Linked DNA regions of Homo sapiens: region 2 is linked to region 1. The links come from fine-mapping of genetic effects on gene expression. Tissue or cell type: whole blood. Region 1 holds a variant in brackets; the other region holds the start of a gene. All regions are shown on one strand. Distances are between the middles of the regions. Region 1 has its middle 110 kb from the start of KCNQ5. Region 2 holds the start of KCNQ5 (potassium voltage-gated channel subfamily Q member 5).

What was found.
Region 2: it holds the start of KCNQ5, and the variant in region 1 is fine-mapped to the expression of KCNQ5 in whole blood (TOPMed, PIP above 0.99).

Annotation. Positions count from the first base shown.
Region 1 is chr6:72,513,023-72,518,397 of GRCh38, reverse strand. No RefSeq gene overlaps it. Among named protein-coding and RNA genes, the nearest start is that of KCNQ5, 110 kb to the left of the region's middle. The variant G/A (reference allele first, on the strand shown) is at 2,652.
Region 2 is chr6:72,619,909-72,625,283 of GRCh38, reverse strand. It overlaps KCNQ5 (potassium voltage-gated channel subfamily Q member 5), which reads right to left and starts at 3,220. Exons shown (of 14, transcript NM_019842.4): 1 at 2,697-3,220. The coding sequence starts at 3,094. It overlaps KCNQ5-DT (KCNQ5 divergent transcript), which reads left to right and starts at 2,605. Exons shown (of 3, transcript NR_186827.1): 1 at 2,605-2,752. RefSeq lists silencers at 1,886-1,935, 2,966-3,225 and enhancers at 1,584-2,535, 4,646-4,835.

The DNA of each region.
Region 1 (5,375 bases):
TAAAAACATTTATATTCAAATTTCAATCAGCTGTGTTTTCAACTCTGAAAAACAATTTTAATGTTCTCTGGAAAAATTAATACATGTTTTAAAATTCTAACTTATAATAATGATATAGTTGTTACAATTATCATTCCTTTTTCAAAGATGAAAAAATTGAGATCCAAATAAGTTAAGTAATTTGTTAAGGTCACACAGCTAGTAAGTAATAGATATCTCAGAAAACCTATCTCACAGCCCATGCTCTCTTTTAGGGGAATGGTCACTTAATGACTATTTTATGATCCAGAGCCTTCTCAGGGCATTATAAACATCTCTAACAATTCTTTCTGCCATGTGTTCAATTAAGGCACTTTTGTAGGAGAACTTTTTAATAGTCTGAGTATTCAAAGCTGTTAAGAAATTACCTTCATCAAAATTTAAAACTTTTTCTCTTGAGGCTCTATTAAGAGAATGAAAATCAAGCCACAGACTAAAAGAAAATATTTGCAAACCATATACCTGACAAAAGACTTGTGTCCAGAAAATACAAAGGACCATCTGAACTCAACAGTAAAAGAAAAAGAAAACAACTAAATAAACTGATTAGAAAATCAGGGTGGATGGAATGGCTCATGCTTGTAATCCCATCACTTTGGGAGGCCGAGGTAGGAAGATCACCTGAGGCTATGAGTTCAAGATCAGCCTGCACAATATTGCAATACCCTGTGTACAAAAAATAAAAAAATTAGCTAGGCATGGTGGCATGTGCCTCTAGTCCCAGTTACTTGGGAGGATGAGGCGAGAGAATTGCTTGAGCCGAGGAGTTCAAAGCTGCAGTCAGCTATGATCACGCTACTGCACTCCAGCCTGTATGACAGAACGAGATCCTAACTCAAAAAAAAAAAAAAAAAAAAAAAGGGAAAACTGGCAAACAACCTGATGAAGTGTTTCATCAAAGAGGATATACAGATGGCAAATAAGTACATAAAAAGATGTGTTACATCACTAGCAATTAGGAAAATGCAATTTAAAACCATAACAAGAGAAATTCACTCTATCCTGGGAATTAGATGGAGTAGATGCACTTCTCTCTATTGCCTCTGCTAAGGAAACTTAATACCTCAGACATCATATATTGAACAAACATTGGAAGAATTTGAAAAGTGGAGGAAAGAAGGCAAACTAGTAGGCACCTTGGGACCTGAAGAATGACACGGTGGTGACTTCCCTGGATTTTCTTTTTGCTTCATATCCCTTAATGTGTGGTAGAAAATCAGGAACCTGGAAACTCCAATGGGTCTGGACCAAATAAATAAGTAAAAAGCCCTAAGAAAGGCCTTATATCTCAAGTCAAATAACAAGAAAAGGGTCAGCTTAGTAAGAGAAAAAAATCTTTTAGACAATAACATTTCTCCCTATACTAGCAAAACACTGGACAAAACTGTGACTGTCTCCACACTCCTAATAGCAAAGAAAGACTGGGGAGACAAAACTTCCATGCCTGTGAAGTTGCAACATATTGCCCCCTTCATCACTGTGGTTGAATCTATGAAAATGGAGTGGGACGTGAGAACTTTTATTCCCTCCCTAAGACCCAACCTCATCCTGACAGTGTCAGTGGAGGTTATGTCCAAAGCAAAATTGAGACATTATCCCCACTCCAAGTCAGAATGGTGTCAGTAGAGGAAGAGAGTGGAGCCCGAACTCCCACATTCGCTTAGGAAAAGAGCCTCTCCTGGGGCATCAACTGCAGCTAAGTGCACAACCTGTACTTTCACTGCCACATGGCAGTAATAAGGTAGTGTCCTCTTTTCCTACTGGCGCAATGTCAGAGGAGGCCTGCTAAGGCAAATAATTTAAATAAGATCCAGAGTCTCATAACATAATAGCCAAAATGTCCAGATATAATATTAAATTACTTATCATACAAAGACAGAAAAATTTTGCGTTGAATGAGAAAAGACAATCACAGATAATAATGCCAAGATTAAATAGATGTGGGAATTACATGACAAAGATTTTAAAGCAGCCATTATAAAAATCTTTCAATAAGTTTGAAGCATTTGAAGAAAATGGAAAGTACCAGCAAATCAATAGAAAGACTCTGCAAAAAGAAAGAATTAATGAAAAGAAAAAAATATATATAAAGGAATGAACTAGAAATTTTAGACCTGAAAAATATAAGAACTGAAATTTAGAAAGTCAATGGATAGGCTTATCAGTATAAAGAAGATGACAGAGGAAAGAACTTGAACTTAAACATAGGACAATGGTAATAAAACAATGGAGATTACTCAACTTGAAAAACAGAGAAAATAGACTGAAAACAATAAACAAAGTCTTAGGGATCTGTGGAAACTCTAATTCAAGATTTATGCTAACAGAGTCCCAGAAGGAGAGAAGAAAGAGAGGTGTGGTTGAAAAAGTATTCAAAAAATGGGTAAAATTTCCCCAAATTTGGCAAAGGACATAAACCTATAGGCTTGAGAAGCTGAGAAAATGTCAAACAGGAAAAAATCAAAGGACTGTATGGCAAGACACATCATAATGATATTTCTGGAAACTGAAGACAAAGAGAAAAATCTTAGAAAACACCAGGAGAGAGAAAAAAATCTTATCAACAAGGGGAAAACAATTGAGATGACAGTGAAATTCTCATCAGAAACCAC[G/A]AGGCTGGAAAAAAGTGGAACAATATTTTTCCATTGCCAAAAGAAAAAATTATTAGCCCAGATTTCTATAGTCAGTGAAAAAAACCTTTGAGAGTGAAGGAGAAATCAGGATATTTTATGATAAAAAAAACTAAGAGAATTTATTGCCAGCAGACCTAATTTTAAAGGATGATTTAATGATTTATTTTCCTAAACAGGAAGATAAATTATTTATTTTCCTAAACAGGAAGAGATGATTGAAAAAAAAAGGTTTTAGAGCAAAGAAAAATAGAAAGTGCAAAATCAAATGTACTTTCCTTTCCCTCTTAATTTTTGGAAATTGTATTTGATAGTTGAAGAAAAACTATACTGTTGTACGTTTATAAAGTACATAGAGAAAATATTTAAGACAAATATATTATAAATGGAGTACAATAAAGGAAGATGAAGTTTCTGTTCTTTACTTGAACTGGTAAAATGATAATACCAATAGACTGACACATTATATACGCATAATCTACTACCTACAAGAACCACTAAAAAAACTATACAAATAAATACACTAAAAAAAACTCAACCTCAAGATAAATCAAAATGGAATTCTAAAAAATATTCAAAGTAACCCTCAAGAAGTCAAGAAAAAAGAGAAACAGAAAAATAACAACAAGAACACAGAAACCAAAATGTCAGGCTGAAGCACTGAAAATTTAATCATCACATTAAATGTAAATGATATAAGTAGAGCAATTAAAAGATGGAGATTGGCAGAATGGATTAAAAACCATAACTATGTGTTGTCTACAAGAAAATAACTTCAAATATAACAATATAGATAAACTGAAAGTAAAAGGACAGAAAAATATATCATGCAAACATCAATTAAAATAAAGCAGAAATGGCTATATTAAAATCATATAAAGTATACTTCATAACAAAATGTTTACCAGGGACAGAGACAATCATTAGTGATAAAGGAATCAGTCTACCAAAAAGATATAGCAATTTTAAATGTGGATGCACCATAAAACAGAGCTGTAAAATATGTGAAGCAAAAAATGATAGAACTGAAAGGAAAAATAGGCAAATTCACAATTATGATTAGAGACTTCAGCCCTTTTTTCAACAGTTGATAGACCAAATACAGAGAAAATTAGTAATCATATAAAGTCAACACCACCACCAAACAACAGAATATAATTGGCATTTATAGGACACTCCTTTCAACAACAGCAGAGTTCACATCCCTTCCAGAATTCATAGAACATTCATCACAAAACATCATGTATCTGGCATCTGTAAAACAAATTTTGCCTAATTTAAAAGAATTGAAATCATACAGAATGTGTTCTCTGGTCATAATAGAATCAAAACAGCAATGCGTAACATAAATATAACAGAAAAAATTCTAGACTCTTGGAAACTAAGCAATGCATTTCTAAATAATTAGTGGGTCAAAAAGGAAGTCTCAGCCGGGTGAGGTGGCTCACGCCTGTTATCCAGCACTTTGGGAGGCCGAGGTAGGTGGATCACCTGAGGTCAGGAGTTCGAGACCAGCCTGGCCAACATGGCAAAACCCTGTCTCTACTAAAAATGCAAAAATTAGCCGGGCGAGTTGGCGTGCACCTGTAATCCCAGCTACTCAGGAGGCTGGGGCAGGAGAGTCCCTTGAACCTGGGAGGTGGAGGTTGCAGTGAGCCAAGATGGGACCACTGCACTCCAGCCTGGGTGACAAAGTGAAACTCCATCTCAAAAAAATGGAAGTCCCAAAGAAAACAAAATACATTAAATTGAATGAAAATGAAAAAACAATATATCAAAATTTGTGGGATGTAACTAAAGCAACACTGAGAAGAAAATTTCTACTACTAAATGCTTATATTAGAAAAAAAGAAAAGTCTCAAATCAATCATCTCATATTTAGAAACTAGAAAAAGGACAAAATAAACTAAGAGCAAGCATAAGGAGGAAATAATAAAACTAGAGCAAAATTCCAAGAAATTAAAAGCAGAAAACAATTGAATAAACCAACAAAACAGAAAGTCAATTCTTTGAAAAGAATAATACAATTAACAAGCCTCTAGCGACACAGACAAACAAATATAGAATCAAGACACAAGTTACCAATATCATGAGTAAAACAGGGAATATCACTTCAGACCCTGAAGACACTGAAGTGTACAAAACCACAATGAGATCTCACTGCACACCTAACAGAAAGGCTAAAATGAAATATAGAGATAATACCAAATCTTGCCAAGGATGCAGAGAAACTGATTGCTCGTATATCGCTGGTAGGAAAGGAAAATGGCACAGCTACTTTGGAAAATAGTTTGGCAGTTCCTTACAAAACTAAACAGGCATATGTGTTATAATGTAATCATTGCACTCTTGAACATTTATATCAGAGAAACAAAAAGTATGGCCAGGCGCGGTGGCTCACGCCTGTAATCTCAGCACTTTGGGAGGCCGAGGCGTGTGCATCATGAGGTCAGGAGATAGAGACCATCTTGGCTAACACCGTGAAACTCCTTCTCTACTAAAAATACAAGAAAATTAGCCGGGCGTGGTGGCGGGTGCCTGTAGTCCCAGCTACTCTGGAGGCTGAGGCAGGAGAATGGAGTGAACCTGGGAGGCGGAGCTTTCAGTGGGCCGAGATCACGCCACTGCACTCCAGCCTGGGCGACAGAGCAAGACTCCGTCTCAACAACAACAACAACAACAACAAAATTATGTTGACACAAAACC
Region 2 (5,375 bases), 110 kb before region 1:
CCATCCTATCAATAGGCTAGGATATGTACTCTTGAAAAGACATTTTATAACCCTAAAATACCATTATAATAATTATTTTTGCATAAATAATAGAAATTTATATTTACCTCAAGCATAACTTTAAACATGCTTTTCTTGTTTCTTGGCAGTGAAAACACTGGTTGACCAAGTAAATTCACCCCTGAAGTACCTCATTAATCACGGTGCACTTGTTCTTGGCAAGAACCTTAATATGCTACAAATACTGTTATTAAAATAAGATTTGGGGATTCCCAAGCTGGCAGGGAATTAGTTAGTTACACCTCTCTCGAAATTATTTTATTGGGGTCTAGTTAAACTTACAGCATAAAGCAACTTCGATAAATGAATGTAATGTGTAAAGTCTGGCTATTCTAAAGCTCATTTAAAATCACAAGCAGCAACTGCCAAAGATGGCCTCTTTCCTCAGGGTCTGCTTAGTTGTGCACAATCCTCCCAAAAGATGATACTATCCATTCCCTCTTTGTGCTAATGTGGATATAGCACCCCTATCTAATTGCTGAGGCATTGCAGTTTCAGACTCTAAAATGTATAATCAAAACTTCACATTTGCTACATCTATTAAGTACACAATTTATTTCCTGTCTACTACTAAAGATACTGCTAGACTGATAAAGCCTGGTAGACAGAGAAGTATCCAACCTTGAACCTTTGGAAAAATCATTTATTAATGTTTTAAAATTCTGTAAGCCCATACAAACCTGTTAACACCAACACATGGAAAAGAAAATGTTGTGTTGCAAGTTCTCATTCATGTTCAAGAACAAGTTAGGAGATGCAAAGTATGTGCACCAACCAAGGCTTTCTTTAACTCTCTCTGAATATACAATGCATAATATAAAAAAAAGAAAGGCTAGAAATGTTTTGAGCATACTGTTGTAAAGAAAAAATCATAACCTATACAGTATATATATTTGCTACCAAATTGAGCATTATAATTGCTAAATTATTTTAGTATATTCTGACAGGTCAAAATAATTTACCAGGCTTATTAAGTAATATGTTTAATTACATATCAGGTCAGAGGAGATTAACGAGAAAAGTGTCAGTTGCATTTCTCTATCATTATCCTAACCACATTTAAATAAATGTGAATTTTACATAAAAGTTATACTTTTTGATGTAATGATGATGCAACACAACCGTTCTCCTTGTGTGCATTGTAAAACGGAAAGTTGGCTGGAATATTCTGCCTAATGCTACATGTTCACGTCAATCTGGGACTGTAAAATTTTCCAGACACCAGAGCCCCACAGATTGTAGACTCCACCAATTTCCTGACTCCTATGTGGTTGAATTCCAGGTTCACCTAGTTACAAAACCAGCCCTTCTTCCATGTTATTTCAAAACACGTTTCTGGTGTTGATGCTAATTCTGCATCCCAGGAGAGAGCTATGTATGGATGACATAACTTATTTCTAAAAGAAACCTAGTCCGTGTGCTCAAAACTTATTTTACTAGGAAACAAGGAATGTATCAGCGAGTATCTGCAACTTTCTCTACTGGTCTTCTAAGGTTGATGTCTTTATATTTCATCTTAACAAAAAAGAAGCAGAAATAATAATACTAAAAAAAGAGGAAGCAAAAGGAGAAGAGGAAGAAAAAAAGAATTAGACACGAGGTAACATTATAAAAACAACCTTAAAATGCCCAGATAAACGTAACTCTAATAGGAGACTGAATGAATGGACTTTGTGGGAAAAACAGTAGTAAACTTTAAAGCCACTGAAAGGTTTTAAATGCCTAAGGGAAAAATAAACATTTGCTTCCAATCATTTTCTCATTAAGCATTCTCTGCTAGATGGAGAAGGCTTACTACACACACACACACACACACACACACACACACACACTCTTTGACTCCGCGCCACAAACGGGGACTTAACCCACTGCCCGATCTCTGTCAGAGGCGACCCATTTGCGCTTCTGCTATCGCACCTCCGCCCGCGTTCCTGCGCCCCAGGTTCCCCGCTGCCTCCCCGCCCCCTGCAGCGCGGGAGCGTTGCTTCGCCTGGCCTGCTGGCCTCCTCTAGACCTTGGCCACCTTCTCCGTGGCAGGAAGGGCTACATGCACTGACAGATTTTCCGTTGGTGGTGGCTGGGTGGTGGCGAGGCGTGTTTCCGGGCGCGCTTAAAACCTAGCAGCTCTCTCCAAGTAGCAGCTTCCCCTACTCCGCCCCTAGGACTGAGGACCTAGCCCTCGATGCCCCCTCACTTCTCCCCGTCCTACCCCGCCATCACCTCCTAACCTCTCCAGTATACTCTCAAGCCTCACACGGGCGCCTGTCCTCCCTTTGCATTCCCTAGCTCCCGGGCGCCCCGTTCGGTTGAAGTTTACGTATCTTGGGACCTAATTGCTCCCAATTATCCGCGCAGCCTAAGTCCCGCGTCTGCCTGGCTCTCGCCCCGGGAGCCTGAAGCTACCGGGCAGTTCATTGGGTGTCCTCGGGGAAAAGGTTCAAGCTGTAGAGATGAGAGAAGTGGGGCTGGGGGAGGGGAGAGGCTCCAGAAGGAAGACCACGAACACGTGCGAAGAAATAAAAGCCACCACGTGTGCACGCGCGCGGGGGCCCAAGGGCGCGAGCGCGGAGCACGCCCCAGGGGGCCAGGGACAGTGGTCCCCTGCAGCGGGCATAGCAGGGGGCGCGGGTACTCACACGAAAGCGTGGTAGATGAACGCCCAGCCGCGGGGTCTCTCCAGCACGTTGTACAGGTAGTTCTGCACCCGCCGGTACTTGACGTTGCGCCGGCAGCTCTGGCTACTCGTGTAAGAGAGCGGCTTCCCCAGCAGGCTCATCCGGGCCCCCTGCTTGCCCCGGCGGCTCTCCCTCAGGCCACCGCCGCCGCCACCGAGCGTGGCCGCGCGGGTGCCCAGCAGTAGCAGGCCGTCGCCCCTGGCGGCTGCCGAGTTCAGCAGCACCCTGCCCCGGCCGGACTCCACATCCTTCATGCCGCTGCCCAAGCGCCCCCCGCCCGCCGCCGCCGCCGCTGCGCCGCTCTTCACCCAGAGCCCGGCGGCGCCGCCCTCCTCTCCTCCCGCGTGGTGGCGGGGCATGGCATCACCACGGGCACCGCGAGGGGGCCGCCAGCGCCTGCGGCGGGGGCAGCGGCCTCATGTGCGCCGGCGGGTTTCAAGGAGGAAGCCGGCGGCCGACGGGGCGCCCGCCAGCCAGAGACCTCTGAGCCGGGGGCGGGGAAGCAGGCAGCCAGCAAACCGCCCGGGCTTCGGGGCGGGAAAGGAGGGGCTGCAGAGGAGGCCGAGGAGTCCCAATTTCTAACAGCCTTTAGCTTCGAATTCTAAATCCGGACCTGTTTGGGGCGTCACTTTGAGAGGGTTTCTCTTGCTCCCTCATTCCCGCGACTACCACTCCCTCCTTCCCAAACTGCCCCCGGGGATAGAGTGGGGGAGTGCGGGGCGCTCCGAGGCGCGCTCCCACGCGCGCACACCCAGCCCCAGGCTTCCCCTTCCCTCTCTCCACTCCCCACGCCCTGCAGCGAAACGGCCCCAGAAGCCCCTCTCCGAGGCGCGAGTTCGGTTTGGTTCTGGCAGGGGCTTTGCAGCTGTCCGGAAGGTGAAGTCAGCCTTGTGTCCTGAGGAGAAACTGGAGATGCAGGTCGCTGTGCCCTCCCGCTGCTACGTCGCTGCGCCGGATCCTGCCATCCTTCCGCAAGGGGTGAGAGCGGGAACAGCCCTGCCCTGCCTTCCAGGTATTATCTAGCCTGGAGGCTGGAGCGCAAGGTAACGCTCCGGGAAGTGGCACTCGGGTCCCCGCACACGGGCGAGTCCTCAGCAGTTCAGTGGACAGACCCGCAGGACGCGGCTGCCAAGTCCGCGAGGCAAGGACCAGGCATCTTCCCGCGCCTCACTCCAGCCTGCGGACTGTGACTTTCCATCCCAGTATCAGACAAGCTCGCGAGTAACTGAACATCCTTTCCAGTCCATGGGTGGGGTGTGGAAAGGGCGTAAAACTCCAAAGTGGCTCCTCCGCGGTGAGCGAGCTGCCCCGGGGCTCTGCCTGACTGCAGCGCGAAGCCTGGGAGAACAAACCCAGTTCCCTCCGTCAAGAAATTTCCATTTAAGTCCGAGAAAGTCATATGATTGAGAAGTTCAGCAGCGGCGGCGAGGACCCAGTGTCTGGGAAAGAACACCTGGAGGATGGGGTGTCCAGGACGCCGGCTTTTCGGGGTTCCGACCCCACCCACCTTATGTTGTAACATACAAGCTTAGAGACCTGTTGCAAGGAACAACTGACTGGGTCTTCCACCACCCCTGGCACCCGGGTGGCCCAAAGCCTATGCGCCCTTGGCGGAGAGAGAGGCCACGGTGCCACTGGCCGCAGCCTCTGGCCTTCAGAAACAGTGTATTACAAAGAAAAGGCAGTTTAAATCTCACATTCAGCATAGGGAAAACTGAAGGGTGCCAGGCTCGGGGACTTCTTCCAACAGAGTGGCTCTTCCCCAAATATGAAAGAAAATCATCAAATTAAATTGAAGGCAAAACTAAGCTTCCACCACAAAGACATAGCAGATAGTTGCAAGGTGGATTCCTTCGGGCCTTTTCCTTTCCTAAGGCTAAAACAATGCTAAGACAAAAGTCTTCTTGCAGCTGTCTCCGCCCCTCCGAGATAAATACTTTCCCAATTCTCCCCCACCCTGTACACACACCCACGCCCGCGGCAGCTGATTTCTGTCTTCTGCAATAGCTCGATTTAAATGCTTTGCTTTTACTCTTTATTATCACTATTATTTGTGTGAAGCCCTCTCGCCTGCTCCTGGTCACCAGCAGGAGCCTGCTTCCCTCCCTCCTTCCCCCCAAGCCTCTGGGCAGCAGAAGCTAGCTGGGAGCTCTGTGCAGCTGGCGGCGACGCCATGTGACTGTGAGCCGAGCACCATCACCCAGAGTCACTCTCTAGCTTTCCCCTAATACACTTCACACCCACGCACTGTGGAGGTGCGAGAGAGGTTGCTCCGTGCGGTGCTATTCGAGGCAGATGCAGAGAGCGCCCTGGAGTAAGCTCTCCAATCCTAGAGCTGCGCGGGACCCTGACTGAAGGCGGAGGGGGCGGGAGGGGGTGCTGTTGCTATATTTAGACTCCCTATGGAGTTTCTGTGCAGGGACTTTCAGGGTGAAAGATCTAGAGACTTAAAATGACTCGTGTGCCCGCTTTAAACGTCAAAATCTTGGCCTTTCTGCAAGCAGTAAAATGAAAACCACTTCCTCTTAACTTAGCTGTTTTCCTTGTTGCAGACTGCTACTTTCGCTGGGTAGGTAAAGTCACTTCCATCTCTCTGGCGCGGCTGGGCCCCGCGTGCAGGCAAGAAGTCTCAGGAAGGCA